Homo sapiens: one gene and its partners. The protein of the gene in region 1 interacts with the protein of each later gene in a pairwise test. Each region holds a gene or a part of one and is shown on either strand. Other genes may lie near its edges.

Region 1 (7,992 bases):
GGGTTTTGGAGTAGGGTTTTAAACCAGAGTCAGACTCCAAACCCCAAGCTGCAGTAGTGACTTAGCTACTACATCCTACTAGAAAGGCCAGGCAGGTAGACATGCAACTCAGGGTAGTTCCACTTTACTTCTTTCCATTTGTCTTGGATTAAAACTGATACAATCGTTTATATCACGTTCCCAAAGGTTTTTTTTTTTACCAGTAACTCTTATCATCACCTGGTATCTCTACCAATAACTACAAAGGCATCTTGTTGCAGATTCACAGCTTCTTTCTCGCTGATGTCAATAAGCACTCTCTGCATATCTTGTTCCTCAGCATTTGCTAAACAGGTGGCATGTTCCTCCCAGGATGGTGCCAACATTTCACCCAAAGGATCAACCAATTTTACACCATTGTCTTCCTTAAAAGAAAAACAAACAATAAGCAATCTGTGCATACTCATGAGGCTGAGTTGAGAACAGAACTCAAAAGCTGTTTCCCTTCAACCAAAGACAGTGATGGCTGAGCAGCTTCAACAATAAACACCAAATATTAATACTGGACCCTGGATTAGGTATTTTATGTATATATATTACCTCATTAAATCCTCATGACACACATAATCAATTAAACTAATAATCCTATTTTAATTTCAATCTTCGAGAAAACTGAGCTTCAGAGAGGTTAGGTAATTTGCTTATGATCATACAGCTAACAAATGTCAGTACTGATATTAAAACAGCAAGTCTATCTTACTCGCCTAAAAACACTATGCCACACTAGCCTTTGTAAAAGGCTGTGATCTGTGCATCCACTATCCATAAACTGACTAGGGCACAAGTGGAGCAGAATAAGGGCACACAGAGATCCTTCTCACTATGACTCGGAACTCCAAGAACACACTAGCCAGCTTGTCAACCAGCGGGTAGGACAGACACTGAAAACTGCCTCCCAACACTGTTCTGCTCAAATTCGTGGAAAGAAAGTGTAGTTCACAGTGAATGTCACCTGAAAGAAAAGAGAATCATTTTGAGAAGTGCCTCTGGAACTAGCAATAAATGTGAGGGTCTTCCTAGAAGTCAATCAGTCAATCAATTATGGTGACTTACATATTTAGACATATACACATTTATAATGATCACATATTTGGACAAGCAATGCCCTTGTTTGGGGGAAGAGGAGGTTACAATCCTTCACAGACCTACACCACTTTAACTTGCTGCTGATTTAGCTACAAAGGCAAAAATCCCACAGCCCCAGCAATCAAATAGAAGCATATTATTCAAACCCTGTATTAATGGCCTATAGCTAATAAAGAATAACTACATTGTGTCAAGAGGTTGGCTAAGATATAGAAACAACAAAAGTGCTCATAAACAGATAAATGGATGAAGAAAATGTGGTATATATACACAATAGAATATTATTCAGCCTTAAAAAAGAAATACTGCCATTTGCATCATGGTTGAATCTGGAAGACATTATGCGAAGTTAAATAAGCCAGACACATGAAGACAAATACTGCAGGCTCATAACATACATGTGTTATGTAAAAAAGTGAAACTCACAGAAACACAGAGTAGTATGGTGGCGGCTAGAGGGTAAGGGAAATGGGGAGATGCTGGCCAATGGGCATAAACTTGCAGTTATAAGATGAATAAGTTCTGGAAGACTAACGTACAGCGTGGTGACTATAGTTCATAATAATATATATTGAAAATGTGTTGAGCGTACGTCTTAAGTATTCCCACCACAAAACAAGGTAACTATGTGAGCTAATGGATATGTTAATTAGCCTGATAGTGGTAATCATTTCACAATGTATACATATATCAAAACATGGTGTTGTATGACTTGAATTATACAATTTTTATTTATCACTTATACCTCAATAAAGCTGAAAAAATAATTGTGTCAAAAAGAATACTTTGATTAAAATCTAACTGTCACAAAGACTAGAACTATCAGGCGTCATCAATATTCTGCCAAAGCTCACCTGTTTGTTCATTCAGAACAAGAAATTATTGCCGAGCTATAAAAACCTGTCTGAAAATGTTCAAAATGTTTCTTTTCAAATCTTTACCCTTCCCCACCCAACCCCAATATCTTTAATCACTGCTAAGTTAACAAAGGAAACAATTTTCAATTACTGAAAATGTCTTAAATCAATAAATTTGGAAGGACATTGTTATTTCTCTAATATGGACACTCCAAAAAATGACAGTATCTTTTCATTCTTTCCACACCCTTAGGAATCATGAGCTTAATGATCATGCTCTTAAAAAAAAAAAGTTGTTTCACATCCAAAGCACATATAAATGAGAAGGCACATTCCTAGAATTAGAATTTGTACTTTAGGTCAATTTGCTCAGACACTAAGGCTTGGTCTTGTAAATAATGGTCTGCTTTATCAGGGCACTAAACCCATTACCTCAGGATTGTGGGACGCTGTTACCATGACTCCTATAGTGGATTTTGTCTGTTTTGACCTCAGGACAGCTAATAATCCCATGCGAAACATGACATGATCAAGATGTTCTGCCTTCGTTCGAAATCCAGCAGTCCCGTATTGAAGGATCAGTCCATTGGGCTTGGCGTGTAATGCTGAGTATTTTGTAATAGCACCTAAATCCATGTCTACAAAATTAAGAAATATTGTTTCGGGCATAACAAGTAATTTCTTAAGAACCATTTGCTTCAAAAACTGCCACCCCAAACGAATAGGTCTGTCTCATCCTGAACCTCCTCAAAGAACCCTATGTTTGACAGAGCAATGGGCAGGAGAGTAAGTCCTGTGGGTTAGAATTACCTACAAGATGTTGTCCAACTTGGTATGTCCACTCCTGGGCAGACTCAGGGCAGATAGCAGATTGTCCCCACTCTCCTCCCATTTTAGCTCCAGGACTATCCTGGACGCCGGGCACACTTAAATTGGTCCACTCTCAACTAAAATGAAGATTTTACACCTATTCAGAGACTCCAATGAGCTCAAAGATCATTTCATTTTACAAAAAGGGAAACTAACCTAAATTAACATAGATAGCTGGTGACGGATTGAGGCCTAAAGTCAGATTCTTGAGTGGACTGAAACTACATATCCCCAAATATCTGAGAAATCTTTGTGGTTCTTTTGCTATTTCTCCCAAACTACAGAGACATATTCTTAAAGGAAAAGCAAAAGGCAACAGTTTCTTCTCCAAGACTACCCAGATCTTTTTCCATTTGCTAAAAACAATCAGGACACCCTTCTAAGATGTTGCTCTAAAACTAGCAATATCTTCTTCTGAAAGAATGCCACCTTTTTCCTTTACTTTTAAAAATAAAACATCGGCCGGGAGCGGTGGCTCACGCCAGTAATCTTAGCACTTTGAGAGGCCAAGGCAGGCGGATCACCTGAGGTCAGGAGTTTGAAACCAGCCTGGCCAACATGGCGAAACCGCCTCTCTATTAAAAATACAAAAAAATTAGTCGGGCGTGTTAGCTGGCGCCTGTAATCCCAGCTACTCGGGAGGCAGAGGTTGCAGTGAGCCGAGATCGCGCCACTGCACTCCAGCCTGGGTGACAAAGGGAGACTCGGTCTCAAAAAAAAAAAAAAAAAAAAAAAACAGGCCAGGTGAGGTGGCTCAGGCCTGTAATCCCGGCATTTTGGGAGGCCAAGGCGGGCGGATCACGAGGTCAGGAATTCAAGACCAGCCTGACCAACATGGTGAGACCCTTGTCTCTACTAAAAATACAAAAAGTAGCCTGGCGTGGTGGTGCGCGCCTGTAGTCCCAGCTACTCAGGAGGCTGACGCAGGAGAATCGCTTGAACCCGCGGGTGGAGGTCGCAGTGAGCCGAGATCGCGCCACTGCACTCCAGGCTGGGCGACAGGGTGAGACTCCGTCTCAAAACAAACAACAACAAAAAATCGGCCCTTAGCCCACTAATACTGTTTTCTCTGGGATACTCCCATTAAGTGGAACTTGGGGTTTCCAACCTCAGTCAGTAGTTTTCCTTCAGTAGTCCATATACTACATTTCCTGGGTCAATTAATTCCCAATTAGCCCAGAGATGAGGAGCAGTCCGCCAGCTGCTAGCCTCATAATTTTGTTTTCTTTATTGTCCTTCATTGCTTCAATGAACAGAACTTGCAAGAAATGGTGAAAAATACTTGCTTTTGTCCAGTTGGAAAAAGCTGGCATTCAGTAAACTAATTTAGTTCAAGACAGTGATCAGATCTCTTTCCTAAGGATGAATACATATTTGTAAAAACTGAGCAGTCAGTTATGTGTCATGATTATTCATAAGAGTGTAAACCAGTCCTGTTAACTCCAAAAAGCCATTAAAAAAAAAAAGGTCCAGATAATATGAGTTCATCCTTTCATGCGTTTTAGGCCCTACAACTACTTTCAATGCCTCTGCGAATGCCTTTATTGAAAGCATATTTGCCAAATCCAGCGTCCACGCAAAAAGTTAAGAGTATCCCCCTACTCTCCATTCAATCTTCAAATCTCCTTGGTGCCTCTCTCCCGCCTACCCTCGAATCACCGCACAAGGGTGATTCCCGGCACTCCACCCTGAGGTCCCCGCCTAGGTCCACGTACCAGAGCCCCGGCAGGAGACCCGCGGCCCGTCCCGACCAGCCCGCCCGCGGGGCGCAGGGGCCTGTAGGTGTGTCCCGCGCGCTCCGCCGCTCGGTCAGTCGCCCGCCAGACCACTAGCCCCTCCGTCGGGCCGAGAATCTGACCTGTCCCGCTCCCACCGAGCCCTTGCCGACCGGTAGTCTCCCTTCTCAACTCCGAGCCTCGGGGCCCGGCTTACCTCGGTCAGGAAGCCCCCTTCACCTACACGCAGCGGAGAAGCGCCCAAGCAACAACGTCTGCACCCAAACCCAGTCCTCAGAACCGCAGACGTGGCCCTGCGTGGCTTCCGGCTCGTCGCCACGCCCCCTGGCCAATCACGGCAGAGGACTATCCGCCAGCCCCGCCCCCGCCTCGCCGCAGGTCGCGCGCAGCTGGCGCCTGAGGAACTGCGGCTGCGGTTCCGAGCGGGGTCTGGGGCTGTTACCATTGAGTGACCAGAAAGGGTGAGGCCCCCGCGGTGGCCCGGGGGTTGGGGCCGAGGGTCGCGGGCCCTCAGAGCACTGCGGCCGCGGAGGCACAGCCTCCGCCTCCAAATCCGGGCCTCTGGGGGCGGCAGGCCCTGCGTTCCTGGGAAGCCGGGGTTCCTAGTGGTCTTGGCTAGGGGCGGGGGTGGGGAATCAGCCCCGTCGCTGGGCCTCGGACAGGGCGACCTCGCCCACAGTGAGCGCCGCCGGCGGCCCGCATCCCCCTCTCCGACGTCGAGGTCATCTCCCAAACCTTTGAATCTGGGAAGCCTTCTCCGGCTGCCGTCTCCCCGGGTACCCCCTTCCCCCAGCTCACTGTAAACATCTTTTATTTAATGACCTCTGAGACACCCCCTACCCTTATCCTGGGTCCCTCGGGGCAGAGGCCAGTGAATCGTAAACGTCCGGAGCCCTGGAATGCGGCCCAAGCGAAAAGGCCACCGCGGTGTTGGGGGGGGGCGGTCCGCGAGTCCAGGACCGAGGGGTGGCGACTGGCGCTGGGGAACTCGGAGCCCATCCTGCTGGCACTGCGGCCTCTCTCGCCGCAGCGTCTGGCTCCGCCCAAGCCCGAGCCCCGGGTGGGATTGGAAGCCGGGCCCCAGCCTTTCCCAGAATTCAGGCTTGCAGAGCGTCTGCAGGTGTCTGCCTGCCACCTGCAGCGGGACAGTTCCAAACACCTGTTGAAAGTGCAGATTCCCCTATCTAGTGCGGGGTGCGGGAGGCGGGAACCCGGAGCCCGGGTACGCAGAATATGGGTTTTTACGGAGTGTTTTAGAGGATGTTGTGCATACTAGATTTTGGAGTCAGGAAATAAAGAAGAGTGCAAGTGTCTGGTTTGTGCCCCTAGCTCTCGGTGCAAAGCGTTCCTGCAGAATTGCTTCCACGTAAAGGGACCTTCGGGAAATTTCGCTGGATACCGGCTGGCATTGACAAACCCAGCGTCCCTGAGCCTTGTGAGGTTTCCAGGCAGGCTGATTGCGAGGCAACATGTCTGCTTCGGTGAAAGAAAGCCTTCAGCTTCAGCTACTGGAGATGGAAATGCTGTTTTCTATGTTTCCTAACCAAGGAGAAGTAAAACTTGAAGATGTAAATGCCCTGACGAATATAAAGAGGTATTTGGAAGGCACAAGGGAGGCGCTGCCACCAAAAATCGAATTTGTAATTACACTCCAGATTGAAGAGCCCAAGGTAGGTACCCTGATTTAAGTGTTTGCCAGGTGCCCAGTTTTTAATTGAAACATCTAGAACATGAGCTTTCTGTCAAGGAAAGATAGAAATATTCCAGGTGCATATTTCCTTGTTTGAAAGATACGGAATGCTCTATAAATTGTCTTCAGTAAATATCTTTAATTTTATGTAAACATATACACCTTTTTAACAAATATACCTGGAGTTTTTATTGACGCTATCTTGCAGTCTTATGCCATTATTATTTTGTTCACCCATCCAGTTGGACTACCTTTCACATGTATCATGATTTTCATAAATCTAAATATCTCCTGTAACATAACTGTCTTTTAAGGAGTGAATGAGTGGATTTTTTGATGGCACCATAACACAGAAAGCAAATATGGATGGAAAAATCTAAAGACTAAAAATGAATTTACCTCCATCTTCTGATCCATTTATCTCCAGCAACATTAGCATAGCATAGGTAATACGTGGACTGGGCATTTGAGAACCACTGTTGTAGCTATTTCCTACTCATCCTTCAGTTGTTATTCCCTCAGAGGAGACTTTCTGGTTCTCCAGACTGGATTCTGTCCCGCTGGTTACACACTTCAATGGAACCCTCCACTTTTCCATGGTAATGCTTTTCACAATTGAAATTAAATACTTGCTATATGTAATTATTTGTTTAATGTGTGTCTCCTTCACTAGGCCCTGGACTTCATGAAGGGCAAAAATAGTGTCTGGTTTATTCACTTTTTTATCCCAGCACAAGGGCACCTGGCACACGTAGTTGTTCAATAAATATTGAAATAATGCATAAAAGGAAGCAATCATGTATGTAAAGTACCTGGTACATTTAATAGTAGCAATAACATTTCTCAAAATCATGCAGTTGCTATTGATAAACTAGCTTATGTGATGTTATGGTATTTAAATCTATTTGATTTTCATTTTAAGGTGAAAATTGATTTGCAAGTGACCATGCCTCACAGCTACCCCTATGTAGCATTGCAGCTGTTTGGACGGTCATCTGAACTTGACAGACATCAGCAGCTACTTCTCAACAAAGGTCTCACTTCTTACATAGGGACTTTTGATCCAGGTGAGCTCTGTGTATGTGCAGCAATCCAGTGGCTACAGGACAACAGTGCATCTTATTTCCTGAACAGAAAGCTTGTATATGAACCATCTACACAAGCAAAGCCAGTCAAGAACACATTCCTCCGAATGTGGATCTACAGTCACCATATATATCAGCAGGACCTAAGGAAAAAGATTTTGGATGTTGGGAAAAGGTTAGATGTGACTGGATTTTGCATGACAGGAAAGCCTGGTATAATCTGTGTGGAGGGTTTCAAAGAGCACTGTGAGGAGTTCTGGCACACAATTAGGTACCCCAATTGGAAGCACATTTCCTGTAAGCATGCTGAAAGCGTGGAGACAGAAGGAAATGGTGAGGACCTGCGCCTTTTCCATTCTTTTGAAGAGTTACTCCTTGAGGCTCATGGTGACTATGGATTAAGGAATGACTATCACATGAATCTGGGCCAATTCTTAGAATTTCTCAAGAAGCACAAAAGTGAGCATGTTTTTCAGATACTATTTGGTATTGAAAGCAAAAGTTCAGACTCATAAAAAGCGATTAAGAGGCCTATGCCTGTAATTTCACTAAGTCAGTATTTCTGTTAATAAGACCAAATTAAAAAGGCTAGTGGCTGTGTAGCATCCTCAGTGCAAAACCCAGCTCCA
Region 2 (7,034 bases), on another chromosome or scaffold:
CATGATCACAACACTGCACTCTAGCCTGGATGACACAGCGAGACCCTGTCTCAAAAAAAAAAAAAAAAAAAAAAAAGAATTTGCACAAGTAGACCTGCCATGCAAGAAACACTAAAGACAGTTCTTCAGGCTGAAATGAAAAGATACTAGACAGTAACATGAACCCACATGAGGAAATAAAGGGTGCTGGTAAAAGTGATTGCATAGGCAAATAGAAAAAATAGTACAGAAGTCTTTTCCATTTCTAACTTTTTTCTCTAAAAGACAACTGCAAAAGCAGTAATTCTAAATGTGTTGATGGACATACAATGTACTGAGAGGTAATTGTATGACAGGAGCACAAGGGAGAGGAGAAGGAACGGAATTATAAAGGGGCAAAGTCTTTGTATAATATAATTAAAATGGCATTAGCCACACAAATTTTTTTTAAATTAAAAATAACTAAACAAACTGGCATTAATCCCTAATAGATGATTATACTAACATGTTAAGTTTATCCCCCAAAGACAACTACTAAGAAAATAACTTTAAGAAACTTCAAGGGATTAAAATGGGACACTGGAAAATACCTATTTCAAACAAAAAGACAATAATGGAGTAACAGAGGAATAAAAAAAGACATGACAGAAAACAAATAACAAAATTACCTTATCAGTAATTATGGTAAATGTAAATTGGTTGCATACTGCAATTCAACACAGGGAAATCCTTTATTTTAACCTAGACATACCTTGGTTATTTCATCAGATATGCTATATTCCAAGAATCTCAAAAGAGTTAGATAAATGCGGAATTTGTTCAGCACGGAAGGCAGCACCGCTGAGAGAAGGCTGTTCATGTACTCCTCCATGTTTGGTGGAATTAGCTGGGGCTGTAAGTGAATCTGGCAGTCTGCCTGAAAAGAGAAGGAGTACACTGTATTTTCTGAGTTCCTAAATTAATCTACATTTTTAAAGAAAGATGCATCATCTCTGTCAGCCCCTATGGGAATTAGAAAATACCACTTATTATTTAGGGGGAGGGAATAATGTTTTTTTTTCTGTGTGTGAGACAGGGTTTTGTCCTGTCACCCAGGCTGGAGTGCAGTGGTGTGATTGCAGCTCACTGCAACCTGCTTCCCAGGCTCAAGTGATCCTCCCACCTCAGCCTCCTCAGTAGTGGGACCACAGGTGCACGCCACCATGCCTGACTAATTTTGGATTTTTTGTAGAGACAAGTTTCGTCATGTTGTCCAGGCTGGCCTCAAAGTTCTGGGCTCACGCAATCCACCTGCCTTGGCCTCCCAAAGTGCTAGGATTACAGGCGTGAGCCACCGCAGCCAGTGAGCATCTATTTTTAATATTAATTTACATGCTTTATAACTACCTCAGAAATAATTATGAAAGCTTTTTCTTGGTTACTTATGTTTCCTCAATGGTATCAGTAAGCACACAAAAATGTAGCCAACCTCTAAAAAGCAGCTAATTAAAAAGGTCTATCAATACTTGCACACAGAAAACATATCCTTGAGCCATTTCATTCTTAGTCAAAGGCGGTTTCTCATCAATCGCAGGTGAATACTATTATTCAGAGACTACACACCATTTGACAACTGGGAGCATTTCCCATCATCCACAGAATTAAAAGCTCTCTTTACCAGCCACTCTGAAGACATACCAGAGCATTTCACCACAAAGCATGAAAATAACTACCAAGTGACCAAGGACATTTTAAAAGAACTCTGAAATATTTTTCACATAAGATTAGCAGAAAACAATGGGTCAAAGGTAGCAAGAACAGAAGTCTGGATGTTAAAATCAGGCAATCTCGCTATGCTCAGATGTGGGTGTTTCTGCTGCCAACAGCCTTGCTGGTCTCATGACTTGCTGATACCTGAGCTTGGTAGATGTAAGGTTTTCATCCATGGCAGTGCAAAATACTCAATTCCCTTAATGATCAGCAGTCACAGTTTTTTTTTTTTTTTTTTTTTTTTTTTTTTTTTTTTTACAACAAATGTAACTTATTAATAAGCGGTACCAAGAAACAGCAAAAATGTAGGTATTTTTCCAATGTCAACCTCCCTCCATTTAAAAATGACTCATCATACCGGGAGGAGTGACCTCCCCTCCGAAGTAATGAAAACGTTAATATTGCAGGGGAATTCCATCTGATGGTAGCTGAAGTCATAATCCACCTTCTGCCACGTTATGAGGTTGCTCAGGGCTGTCACATTATGAACACCTACAAAGGCAGGAAAACACTTTCAGTCATTTGACTTTAATCATCTAAACACATCAGTTTTGCTGACACCGATGATGAGCCATGAAGTTTCTACCACTTTTAATAAAGGGTATGAGGCGCTGTCCAGTTTACTAAGCTAAACGTCACTAAGTGTGTAGGCTTACAACAGTCTTGGTCAAGGTAGAACTTTCTGGGGGCAGGCGATACCCCCGCAAATCTAATACCTAGCATCTGGTATGCACCTAGACATAAAATAGTTCCCAAGTATGATTATTTCTAAGTGGTGTATTTACAGGGCTAAACCAAGGAAACACTAAAACTACCGTCATACATAGATCAGCCTAGTGAATTTTACAGATTTTATATTCCCCTTTGCCTTAAACATGCCCAGTCTACCTCATTTTTTCTTCTACCTTTACCTCTTGAGCTGATCGCCAGCAGTGTATTCTTAATTGTCTTCATTTGAGCACTGGTAAACAATCTGCTTTCTTGTGATTTTATAATATATTCCGCAACTGAGGTTAGTGCAAACCATTTGATCTATTATTTCTCAGACATTCTCTGAAAACCATTTACAAACTTTACAACGGGAGGTTAAAACATAATTAGCCAGGCGTGATGGCGGGTGCCTGTAGTCCCAGCTACTCGGGAGGCTGAGGCAGGAGAATGGTGTGAACCCGGGAGTTGGAGGTTGCAGTGAGCCAAGATTGGCCACTGCACTCCAGCCTGGGCGACAGAGCAAGACTCCGTCTCAAAACAAAAAAAAAATTATATTAGATCTTTTCTACACTTCCCTTTTGAGGTATTAGATGACTAAAGGCAAAGCTTCCTCCCATTTCAGCTTTTTAAAAAGCTATTTGGGGCAGGTGCAGTGGCTCACACCTGTAATCCCAGCACTGTGGGAGGCCAAGGCAGGAGGATCACTTGAGCCCAGGAATTCAAGATCAGCTGGGCAACATAGCGAGACCCTGTCTCTACCATTCCTTACACTCACTGAAAAAAAAATTTTAGGTTATATACAACTACGCAAAAGAACCCAACACTGTAGGCCCATAAAGACTGCTCCAACCATTCGCTGACACAATAAAACTTTTCACCAAAGAACCCTTACGACCCTCAACATCTAATACTACCCTTTATATTACTGCTCCATTATACTAATACTACCCTTTATATTATTGCTCCATTATATAATATATAAAATATATAATATATGATATATATTAAATGAGACATTATATATTATATATGATATATATTATATAAGATATATTATATAAGATATATATCTGTTCCATTGTACTACTTTCAGAATACTATGGCAAAACATAGTTGGTGTATATAATTAGTTTATAACATATGCTTTAATCAAATTCATATGCCAAGCCTTTATCTTACGTTGTTAAATGTGAATTTGTCCATAGATACTCTTCTAAAAGTTATTCCTAGATCTGGCTTTAGTGCGAAGGAAGTCAGAAATGGAAGAGAAACATCTATGTACGTACCTGGGGTATCCAGCTGCCCCTGTTCCAGGAGAGTCTCATCGATTACAAGGGAAGTATTGCTGGGCAGCTGGAGGAGCCCACTGACCAAGCGATTGGCTGTGTAGTCTTTGTGGGGAATGAATTTCAAATGGTTCATGTTCTCTATAGTCATCTGCAGACGAAAAGACTGCAAAGAGAAATTTTTTAGTGAACAAGAATTTAAGTTTCCCTGTTTTAAGAAAATATGTACTTGGAATTAAACATTGTGTTTCATATGGAAAAAGTGATCTTATAAATTTCTAAGGGAGTAGTGATATGGTTTCTTGAACTCCAGAAGCAAAAATAGTATCTAGATCTTACATTTGAATTTCATCCATTTTATGAGCTACTTTATTCTCAAATGTCTTGTTCAATATTCTTGAAAATCAATTTTAATTTAACCAATGAAACAAATGGTAGATAACTGACATATAAATATTAAATACCCCAAAACCTAACCTCTTTCACCTAACACAAGCTAGCTAGCAAAAAGAAAATGTTAATTTTACTCTTCAAGACAGGGAGAGAAAAGCTTAATTTTCCTCTATATTCTTTGAGTTAAAATTGTATTCATTTATCATAGACATTTTTGAACAAACTTTTCAGAGAAAAATCAAGGAGCAGAGCACACTGAGCTGTGGATGGACCTGCAGCTCTCAGGAGGTGCCTCCAGGACGCGAGCACCTTCTCACTCAGTGTTTAACGAGTAAGCGAACCATCTATGCTCCTCCTCCAGCTCTTGAGCCACCATTCCCAACACCCTCTGTGCTCTGCCTTATACACCAATCCATTCTTCCATCCCTCCAGCCTCAAACAATGTGGCAGGGATGGAGAAGAGGGTATGGTGGGGGAAGGCTGTCAAGGAAGAGGTAAGATATATTGCGAAAATTTAGAGGAGTTTTGTGTATTACCTCAGTGATTCTAAGAAAACGGGGAGCTTAGGGGTGCTTAAATGACCTACCATGTATTAATTTATTTGTTGGTCTTCTACCTAAACTCTGTGAGGGCAAAGGATCTGTTTCAATAATTCTCAAAATGTGGTCCCGAGAACCCCCAGGGAATTGCTTAAACCCTTTTACAGGGTCAATCAGGTCAAAATCATGCATGGATAAAAGATCCTTTCAATGTGCGAGACTAATGAATTTTACCATAGCAGACTATGGAAAGTTTACGAATAGGATTTCAGATTCCACACTTAACTATCTTTAAGAAAATCTCATGTGGACAGTTTTGGTCTAGTATCAAAGACCACCACCCAGTTATCTGCAAAGGCTATCGAAACCATCCTTCCTTTACCATCTACTTTTCCATCTGTGTGAGGCCAGCTTTCCTTCATATACTTCAACCAAAACCTGAGACTACAATAGACTGAAGGCAGAAGCAGATACAAGCATCCATTGTCTCCTATTAATCCAGACATTGAAGAGATTTGCAAGAATGTAAAACAATGTCACCTTTATCACTAATCATTTTTGGCTTGGGAAAAGTTGTTTTTATAAAAATATTTATATGTAATTTTTTATTTTTAATAGGTGTATTTACTTTATCTTCTAGTTTGGTAAATTAATGATAAATATAATCATAACGTGAAAAACAGCTCTTTGAGTATGAACACATTTTTCAGAGTGTAAAGTGAGTCTAAGGAGACTGAGAACTGCTGGTATATTCCAGTCCACTTCTGCTTCTTGAGGGCCTGGACGAGTGTTAGCACTGAGACACTGAATACATTCGGTTCAATAAAGATCTAGTGCACCCTCTTCAATTTCCAAAGAAGTGATCAGTATTTTCAGTCACACAACTAATCAGAAGCAATTCCCCTGTTCCCAAGATCCTACCACCACGCAAATACTGCATTCCAGATACCCTGGCAAATAAAGTGAGCTCAACTTTCCAAACAGGAATTAAAATTGAGGCAATGGAGATAAAGAACTTTATTACCTCAACTAAAAGAATTATGCTCCTACAATTTAGAGTTTATTTAGATTTAAGACTTTAGTGTACAAAAAGGATACCAAATTGGACAAATTGGTATCAAGAGAGTGTAATTTTAAGGGAGTTACTACAATTGTTTTGTTAGACTTACAGAAATTTGTGCTTAGGCAAAAAGACAAAAAAAAGTGAAATGTTTAGGGGAACGTACATTTTAAATTATGTAATTTGGCAGGCTTTGTTTCCCCTTAAATAAGATCTATTAAAATCTCTAAGTTAAATATTTGAAGTGAATGAAAGACAGTTAGATGGATTTTTTAAGTGTGCTTAGGTTTATAATACATATTTATATTCATCTTACTGCTGGAACAAGATGTTGAATAATTCGATACAAGTGTTCTGTGAAGGTACTATTCCGTGGGCAACCACTCAAGTTAACTGTAAATTTTCCTAGTGGAAGGACATCTCTTCTTGTATATCTAGAAAAGAAAGAAATCAATCAATAAGATGCTGAAGTGACTTCCTGATTTCTATCAAATAGCGAAGAATAGAAAAATTAGCTTAATATTGTCATTAAAAATAAACCAGAATATTCTGACCAGTTATTTTATCAGAATAACAGCAATAAAAGTAATAGCCAATATTTGTACGTAAGTGCTGCTGGTCACGTGCCAAAGACCGTTCTGAGTATGTAAATGCTTCCTCATTTAACCCCTAACCATTCAGCGGTAGGTGCTGTTGTCTTTGCTTCACAGATGAGAAATCCGAGGCACAGAGATGATAATAAGCAACATGTTCATCTAAATGGAAGCTGACAGAGCTGGGATATGAATCCGGGTAGTTTGGTTCCAGAGCCTGTGCTCTCAACCATTATGTACTACTGTCACAGACTGATTTGAGAAAAGATAAGATTTACAGCACAAAGATGTTTCCTGCAACTTTATAATAGAGAAAAGCTAGGAAAAGCTAACATTTAGGGAAATGGTTACAGTATGGTACAACTGCATAGTGAAATACTTTGCAGCCACTACAAAGTTCATGAAGCATTATGATGGGAAAATGTTTAATATATATCAACTGCTGAAAACAAGACACGCATCTGTGCTTAGAGTGTAACTAAGACCTATGCAAGGATGTATACATATGTAAACAAAAACCAATGAACATGTACCTAAAGGTTAACGGAGGTTCTAAGTGGTGAAATTACAGATGATGTGCATTTTCCTCCTTATGTTCTTGGAACTTGTCAAAGGCCCACACTAGTTTTAAAATGAGAAACAAAGAAATACAGTGGAGTCAAGGGATGCGGTGCTAGTGTCAATGTCCACGTTAAACGTGCACATGACGTGGGCGCCTTGGGAT
Region 3 (7,034 bases), on another chromosome or scaffold:
TTAGCTCCCCCTTATAAGTGAGAACATATGATGTTTGGTTTTCCATTCCTGAGTTACTTCCCTTAGAATAATGGTCTCCACCTCCACCCAGGTTGTCGTGAATGCCATTATTTTGTTCCTTCTTATGGCTGAGTAGTATTCCATGGTGTGTGTGTGTGTGTGTGTGTGTGTATGTATACATATTATATATATGTATATTACATTTTCTTTATCCACTCTTTGGCTGATGGGCATTTAGGCTGGGTCCATAACTTTGCAATTGCAAATTGTGCTACTATAAATATGTGTGTGCAAGTGTCCTTTTCATATAGTGACTTCTTTTCCTCTGGGTAGATACTCAGTAGTAGGATTACTGGATCAAATGGTAGTTCTACTTTTACTTCTTTAAGGAATCTCCATACTTAAGGTTTTCCATAGTGGTTGTACTAGTTTACATTCCCACCAGCAGTGTAGAAGTGTTTCCTTTTCACCACATTCATGCCAACATCTAATATTTTTTGTTTTTTTTTTAATTGTGGCCATTTCTGCAGGAGTGAGGTGATATCTCATTGTGGTTTGATTTGCATTTCCAGTGCTTAGTGATGTTGAGCATTTTTTCATATGTTTCTTGGCCATTTGTATATGTTCTTTGAGAATTGTCTATTCATGTCCTTAGCCCACTTTTTGATGGGATTATTTGTTTTTTGTTTTTGTTTTGTTTTGTTTTTTGAGACTGAGTCTCACTCTGTTGCCCAAGCTGGAATGCAGTGGTGTGATCTTGGCTCACTGCAACCTCTACCTCCCTGGTTCCAGCGATTCTCCTGCCTCAGCCTCCTGAGTAGCTGGGAATACAGGCGCCCGCCACCATGCCTGGCTAATTTTTGTGTTGTTAGTAGAGACAGGGTTTCACTATGTTGGCCAGGCTGGTCTCAAACTCCTGACCTCAGGTGATCCGCCCGCCTGGGTCTCCCAAAGTGCTGGGATTACAGGCGTGAGCCACCGCACCCGGCCTATTTGTTTATTTTTATTTCTACTTTATTTATTTATTTATTTATTTATTTATTTATTTATTTATCTATTTATTTATTTTTGCTGATTTGTTTGAGTTCCTTGTCGATTCTGGATATTAGACCTTTGTCAGATGCATAGTTTGGGAATATTTTCTCCCACATTGTGAGTTGTCTGTTTACTCTGCTGATTATTTATTTTGCTGTGCAGAAATTTTTTAGTTTAATTAGGTCCCATCTATTTATCTTTGTTTTTGTTGCCTTTGTTTTTGAGTTCTTGGTCATGAACTCTTTGCCAAAGCCAATACCTAGAAGAGTTTTTCCAATGTTGTCTTCTAGAATTTTTATGATTTCAGGTCTTAGATTTAAGTCCTTGGTCCATCTTGAGTTGATTTTTGTAGAGAGGTGAGAGATGAGAGATGCGGTGAGAGATGAGGATCCAGGTTCATTCTCCTACATGTGGCTTGCCAAATATCCCAGCACCATTTGTTGAATAGGGTGTCCTTTCCCCAGTTTATGTTTTTGTTTGCTTTGTCAAAGACCAGTTGGCTGTAAGTATTGGGCTTTATTTCTGGGTTCTCTATTCTGTGTCATTGGTTTATGTGCCTATTTTTATACCACTACCATGCTATTTTGGTAACTACAGGCTTGTAGTATAGTTTGAAGTCGGGTAATGTGATGCCTCTAGATTTGTTCTTTTTGTTTAATCTTGCTTTGGCTATGTGTGTTCTTTTTGGGTTTCATATGAATTTTAGGATTGTTTTTTCTAGTTCTGTCAAGAATTATTATGGTATTTTGATGGGAATTGCGTTGAATTTGTAGATTGTTTTTAGCAGTATGGTCTTTTTCACAATATTGATTCTACCCATCCATGAGCATGGGATGTGTTTCCATTTGTTTGTGTCATCTATGATTTCTTTCAGCAGTGTTTTGTAGTTTTCCTTGTAGAGATCTTTCACCTCCTGGGTTAGGTATATGCCTAAGTATATTATTTTTTTTGCAGCTGTTGTAAAAGGGGTTGAGTTCTTGATTTGATTCTCAGCTTGGTTGCTGTTGGTGTATAGTAGTGTTACTGACATATTGATTTTGTATCCTGAACTTTACTGAATTCATTTTTCAGATCTAGGAGCTTTTTGGATGAGTCTTTAGGGTTTTCTAGGTATACAATCATATCATCAGCAAACAGTGAGAGTTTGACTTCCTCTTTACCGATTTGGATGCCCCTTATTTCTTTCTTTTGTCTGATTGCTCTGGCTAGGACTTCCAGGACTATGTTGAACAGAAATGGTGAAAGGGGGCATCCTTGTCCAGTTCCAGTTCTCAGGAAGAATGTTTTCATCTTTTCCCTGTTCAATATAATGTTGGCTGTGGGTTTGTCATAGATGGCTTTTATTACCTTAAGGTATGTCCCTTCCATGCTGATTTTGTGGAGGGTTTTAATCATAAAGGGATGCTGGATTTTGTCAAATGCTTTTTCTGCATCTATTGAGATGATCATGTGATTTTTGTTTTTAATTCTGTTTATGTGGTGTATCACATTTATTGACTTGCATGTGTTAAACCAAACCTGCATCCCTGGTATGAAACCCATTTGATCATGGTGTATTATCTTTTTGATATGGTATTGGATTCAGTTACCTAGTATTTTGTTGAGAATTTTTGCATCTATGTTCATCAGGGGTACTGGTCTGTAGTTTTCTTTTTTTGTCATGTCTGTTTCTGGTTTTGGTTTGAGGGTAATACTGGCTTCATAGAATGATTTAGGGAGGATTATCTCTCTCTGTCTTTTGGGATAGTTTTAGAAGGATTGGTACCAATTTTTCTTTGAATGTCTGATAGAATCATGTGACATTTCAAGGAATTCATATATGTAAAGGCCCCAGAAGAGTGCCCGGAATGTAGTAAGTATTCTCTGCATGGTAGATATTATTATTAGCAATGCTGGTAGCTTTGCCCCAGATAAACTTTGCTTCCTTCACCATTTTTCCTAAAGTTAGCCCTAGGACCAGGTTATATCTGTTTCAGAATATTTTATTCCATTTTCCCCTATTGCCTAATTTGCACTCTCTCTCTCAATCTCTGTTTCTTTCTCTCTCTCTATTTATGTGTGGGTCTGTGTGTGTGACTTTTGAGGTAGGTGTGATGGGTGACCACTTTATATCCCTTGTAGAATAATGTCTACTATGGAATTTTCTTTTTTTTTTCTATTATGGTCCAGACTCTTCAGGAAATTTTAAATTTTTCTTTAATAAATACTATGATATTTTCTTTTTTATTCCTTTTTTTTTTTTTTTTTGAGACAGAGTTTTGCTCTGTCACCCAGTCTGGAGTGCAGTGGTGTCATCTCTGCTCACTGCAACCTCTGCCTCCTGGGCTCAAGCAATTCTCATGCCTCAGCCTCTCAAGTAGCTGGGATTACAGGCACGCGCCACCACGCCCGGCTAATTTTTGTATTTTTAGTAGAGACGGAGTTTCACCATGTTGGCCAGGCTGATCTCAAGCTCCTGACCTCAAGTGATCTGCCCACCTTGGCATCCCAAAATGCTGGGATTACAGGCATGAGCCACCACGCCTGGCCAATACTATGGTATTTTTTTTTTTCAAATAAAAACATGGTGAAGTTGCCAATGATTTCTGCATTCTAAAGCTGCCAGAAGGTTTACTTAGCTTCTTTGCAGTTCTAAGAATACTGGATGATACAGAAACACCTTCCAGGTTAGGCATTGTTCAGGATTTTTCTGATAACTAATGCTTACTCCTTTAAGCACCAATGCTTAAAATATTCTTCCACTTTGGATAGAAATATTTATTGTTTAAAAAAATTATGTTTATTACTTTTATTTTTTTATGGGACACTTCACAAATTTTTGTGTTATTCTCGTACAGGGGCCATATGAATATTCTCTGTATCGTTCCAATTTTAGTATATGGGCTGCTGAAGTGAGCACAAGATAGAAATATTTCTAAAATGTATGTCTTAATTTTCTCTCTTCTTAAATAAAAGGCACTGGAAACACTTTTATCTCTTTTTGGTAATTCATGCTGACCTGGGCATTATATGAATATTGTAATGAGGCAATATCTGACATCGTGGTTAAGCACATGCCTTCTCTAGTTTGGCAGACCTAGATTAGAATCTTGGCTTGGTCAATTACTGGCTGCATAACTCTGGGACAGTTACTTGACCTCTCTATGCTCCTTTTTCCTCATCTGTATAATGGAGACATTAATAGTATCTGCTGTATATGATTGTTTTAAGGATCAAATGAGATAATACATCCAAGGCACTTAATATAGCACTGCACATAAGGCATACACAATAGCTGTTTTCTGTGGTGTTATTACTCGGTAATGTTCTCTGCATTGTTGTGTGCAAAATTATTCTTGTAAGGTATATATAGGAGCCATATTGAGGCACTCCTAGAACCCAGAAAGAAGACTAATAAAATCAATACATAAGGAATGAGACCGAAAGCTGAGCTGGGGAGCACGAAGCAGCCAAGAAGACTCATCATCTTGTCTGAAGCTTCCAGGTAGCTGGAAGACAGACTTAAACATAAATATTTGCAAATGTCCCTGGATAGAGTCTCTCTCGGGCCCAAAGTGCCTGGCACAGTGCCTGGCATAGGACATACCTAATAGATTTTTGTTGACCCTATAAAACTGTAGATGTACAAAAAGCAAGAAGAGCAGGGCTTGACTGTTGCTTAGAACACAATATTATTTATCTAAAGAAAGCATACCGGCTTGAAATTGTCAGCTTGGAAATGCAGAAAAATGGAGCCGCAGATGCAGCACCGTACCGACAAATTGAGTACTGGGCTCTGGGGCATGGTGACGACATTAAAAAAGCTGTTGCCTTCTGGTCCTCTGGGTGGCCAGTCGGCTTCTCCAAGTAACCCCCATCTGTGTGTTCTCATATGGCTACAATGTCTTAGGGTCTTTAGAGGATCACACATTTAGTAACTGATCAGGAAAGTCTGCTGAGACATCTGGGAACAAAGTGCTCTCGGAAGCACCCCACCACCTTCTTGATAGTGTCCTTTGTAACACAATTTTTTTTGTTGTTGTTGTCTGTTTGTTTGAGACGGAGTCTTGCTCTGTCTCCCAGGCTGGAGTGCAGTGGCACAATCTTGGCTCACGGCAACTTTGGCCTCTTGGGTTCAAGTGATTCTCATGCCTCAGCCTCCCAAGTAGCTGGGATTACAGGTGCCTGCCACTATGCCTGGCTAATTTTTGTATTTTTAAGTAGAGACGGGGTTTTGCCATATTGTCCAGCCTCTCCTGGCCTCAAGTGATCCACCTGCCTCAGCCTCCCAAAAGGCTGGGATTACAGGCGTAAGCCACTGTGCCTGGCCCACAAAAATTTATTAATTAGACATTTTTGTTTTTTACTTTCAATTTTTGTGGGTACATAGCAGGTGTATATATTTGTGGGGTACATGAAATGTTGTGATACAGGCATGCAATGTGTAATAATCCCATCATGGAGAGTGGGGTATCCATACCCTCAAGCATTTATCCTTTGTGTTACAAACAATTCAATTACACTCTTTAAGTTATTTTAATAAGTACAATTATTATTGACTATAGTCACCCTGTTGTGCTATCAAATGGGCCTTATTCATTCTTTCAATTTTTTTTGTACCCATTAACCATTCCTGCCTCCTTCCCCAATATACTTCTCAGCCTCTGGTAACCTGTCTTCTACTCTCTATGCCCATTAGTTCAATTGTTTTTATTTTTAGATCCCACAAATAAGTGAGGACATGTGATGTTTGTCTTTCTGTACCTGGCTTATTTCACTTAACATAATGATCTCTAGTTCCATCCATGTTGTTGCAAATGACTGATTCTCATTCTTCTTTATGGCTGAATAGTACTCCATTGTGTATACATACCACATTTTCTTTATCCATTCATTTGTTGGTGGACAGTTAGGTTGCTTCCAAATCTTAGCTATTTGTGAACAGTACTGCAACAAACATAGGAGCGCCGTTATCTCTTCCATATACTGATTTCCTTTCTTTTGGGTAACATACCCAGCAGTGGGATTGCTGGATCATATGGTAGCTCAATTTTCAGTTTTTCGAGGCACCTCCAAACTGTCCATAATGGTTGTATTAATTTACGTTCCCACCAGCAGTGTATGAGGGTTCCCTTTTCTCCACATCCTCTCCAGCATTTGTTATTGCCTGTCCAAAAGTTTTTAATTTTGATGAAGTCAAATTCATCTCTTTTGTTGCTTGTGCTTTTGGTGTCATATCTAAGAAACTCATAATCAAATGTCTTGAAGAATTTTTTTCCTGTTTTCTCCTAAGAATAATATAGTTTTACTTCTTACATTAAGGTCTTTGATCTATTTTGAGTTAATTTTTGTATATGGTAGGAGGTACGGGTCCAAATTCATTCTTTTGCATATGCACATCCAGTTGTTTCAGTAACATTTGTTGAAAAGACAACATTAGCCAATTCCTCCATTGAACTGATTAATGTAGCTACGTAGTAAGTTTTAAAAGCGGGTCCTTCAACTTTGTTCTTCATTTTCAAAATCACTTTGGCCATTCTGGATCCCTCGCATGTCCATATGAATTTTAGGATCAGCTTGTCAATTTCTACAAAAAAGGCCAGCTGAGATTTTGATAGTGATTGTGTTCAATCTATAGATTGCTTTGGAGAGTGTTGCCATCTTAATAATATTAAATGTTTGAATCCATGAACATGGGATGTATTTCCACTTATTTGTCTTATGGGATGTATTTCCACTTATTTGTCTTTAGTTTCATTCAGCAATATTATGTACTTTTCAGTGTACATGTCTTATACCTGCTTGGTTCAATTTATTCCAAAGGATTTTATTATTTTTGGTGTTATAAAAAAATAGGATTGTTTTCTTGATTTGGTATTTAAATTGTTCACTGCAAGTGTATAGAAATATAATTATTTTTTTGAGACAAGGTCTTACTCTGTTGCCCAGGCTGGAGTGCAGTGGTGTGATTACAGCTCACTGCAGTCTCAAACTCCTGGGCTCAGGTGATTGTCCTACCT

Evidence for each region. The genes of interacting proteins can lie anywhere in the genome.
Region 2: the proteins of RWDD2A (region 1) and MCMBP interact in binary tests that used the Homo sapiens proteins (3 or more experiments, as listed by UniProt).
Region 3: the proteins of RWDD2A (region 1) and ARHGEF6 interact in binary tests that used the Homo sapiens proteins (3 or more experiments, as listed by UniProt).

Annotation. Positions count from the first base shown.
Region 1 is NC_000006.12:83,188,395-83,196,386, forward strand, and holds the start of RWDD2A (RWD domain-containing protein 2A), read left to right. Parts: upstream 1-4,962; 5' UTR 4,963-5,049; exon of another isoform or gene 5,050-5,917; 5' UTR 5,918-6,057; coding exon 6,058-6,258; exon of another isoform or gene 6,259-6,874; coding exon of another isoform or gene 6,875-6,877; intron 6,878-7,200; coding exon 7,201-7,878; 3' UTR 7,879-7,992. Other genes in the region: PGM3 (phosphoacetylglucosamine mutase), read right to left, coding at 220-404, 2,415-2,620, 2,793-2,874.
Region 2 is NC_000010.11:119,834,810-119,841,843, forward strand, and holds part of MCMBP (mini-chromosome maintenance complex-binding protein), read right to left. Parts: intron 6,152-7,034; coding exon 6,034-6,151; intron 3,892-6,033; coding exon 3,726-3,891; intron 2,221-3,725; coding exon 2,087-2,220; intron 896-2,086; coding exon 731-895; intron 1-730. UniProt on the Homo sapiens protein: Associated component of the MCM complex that acts as a regulator of DNA replication.
Region 3 is NC_000023.11:136,770,899-136,777,932, reverse strand, and holds part of ARHGEF6 (rho guanine nucleotide exchange factor 6), read left to right. Parts: intron 1-7,034. UniProt on the Homo sapiens protein: Acts as a RAC1 guanine nucleotide exchange factor (GEF).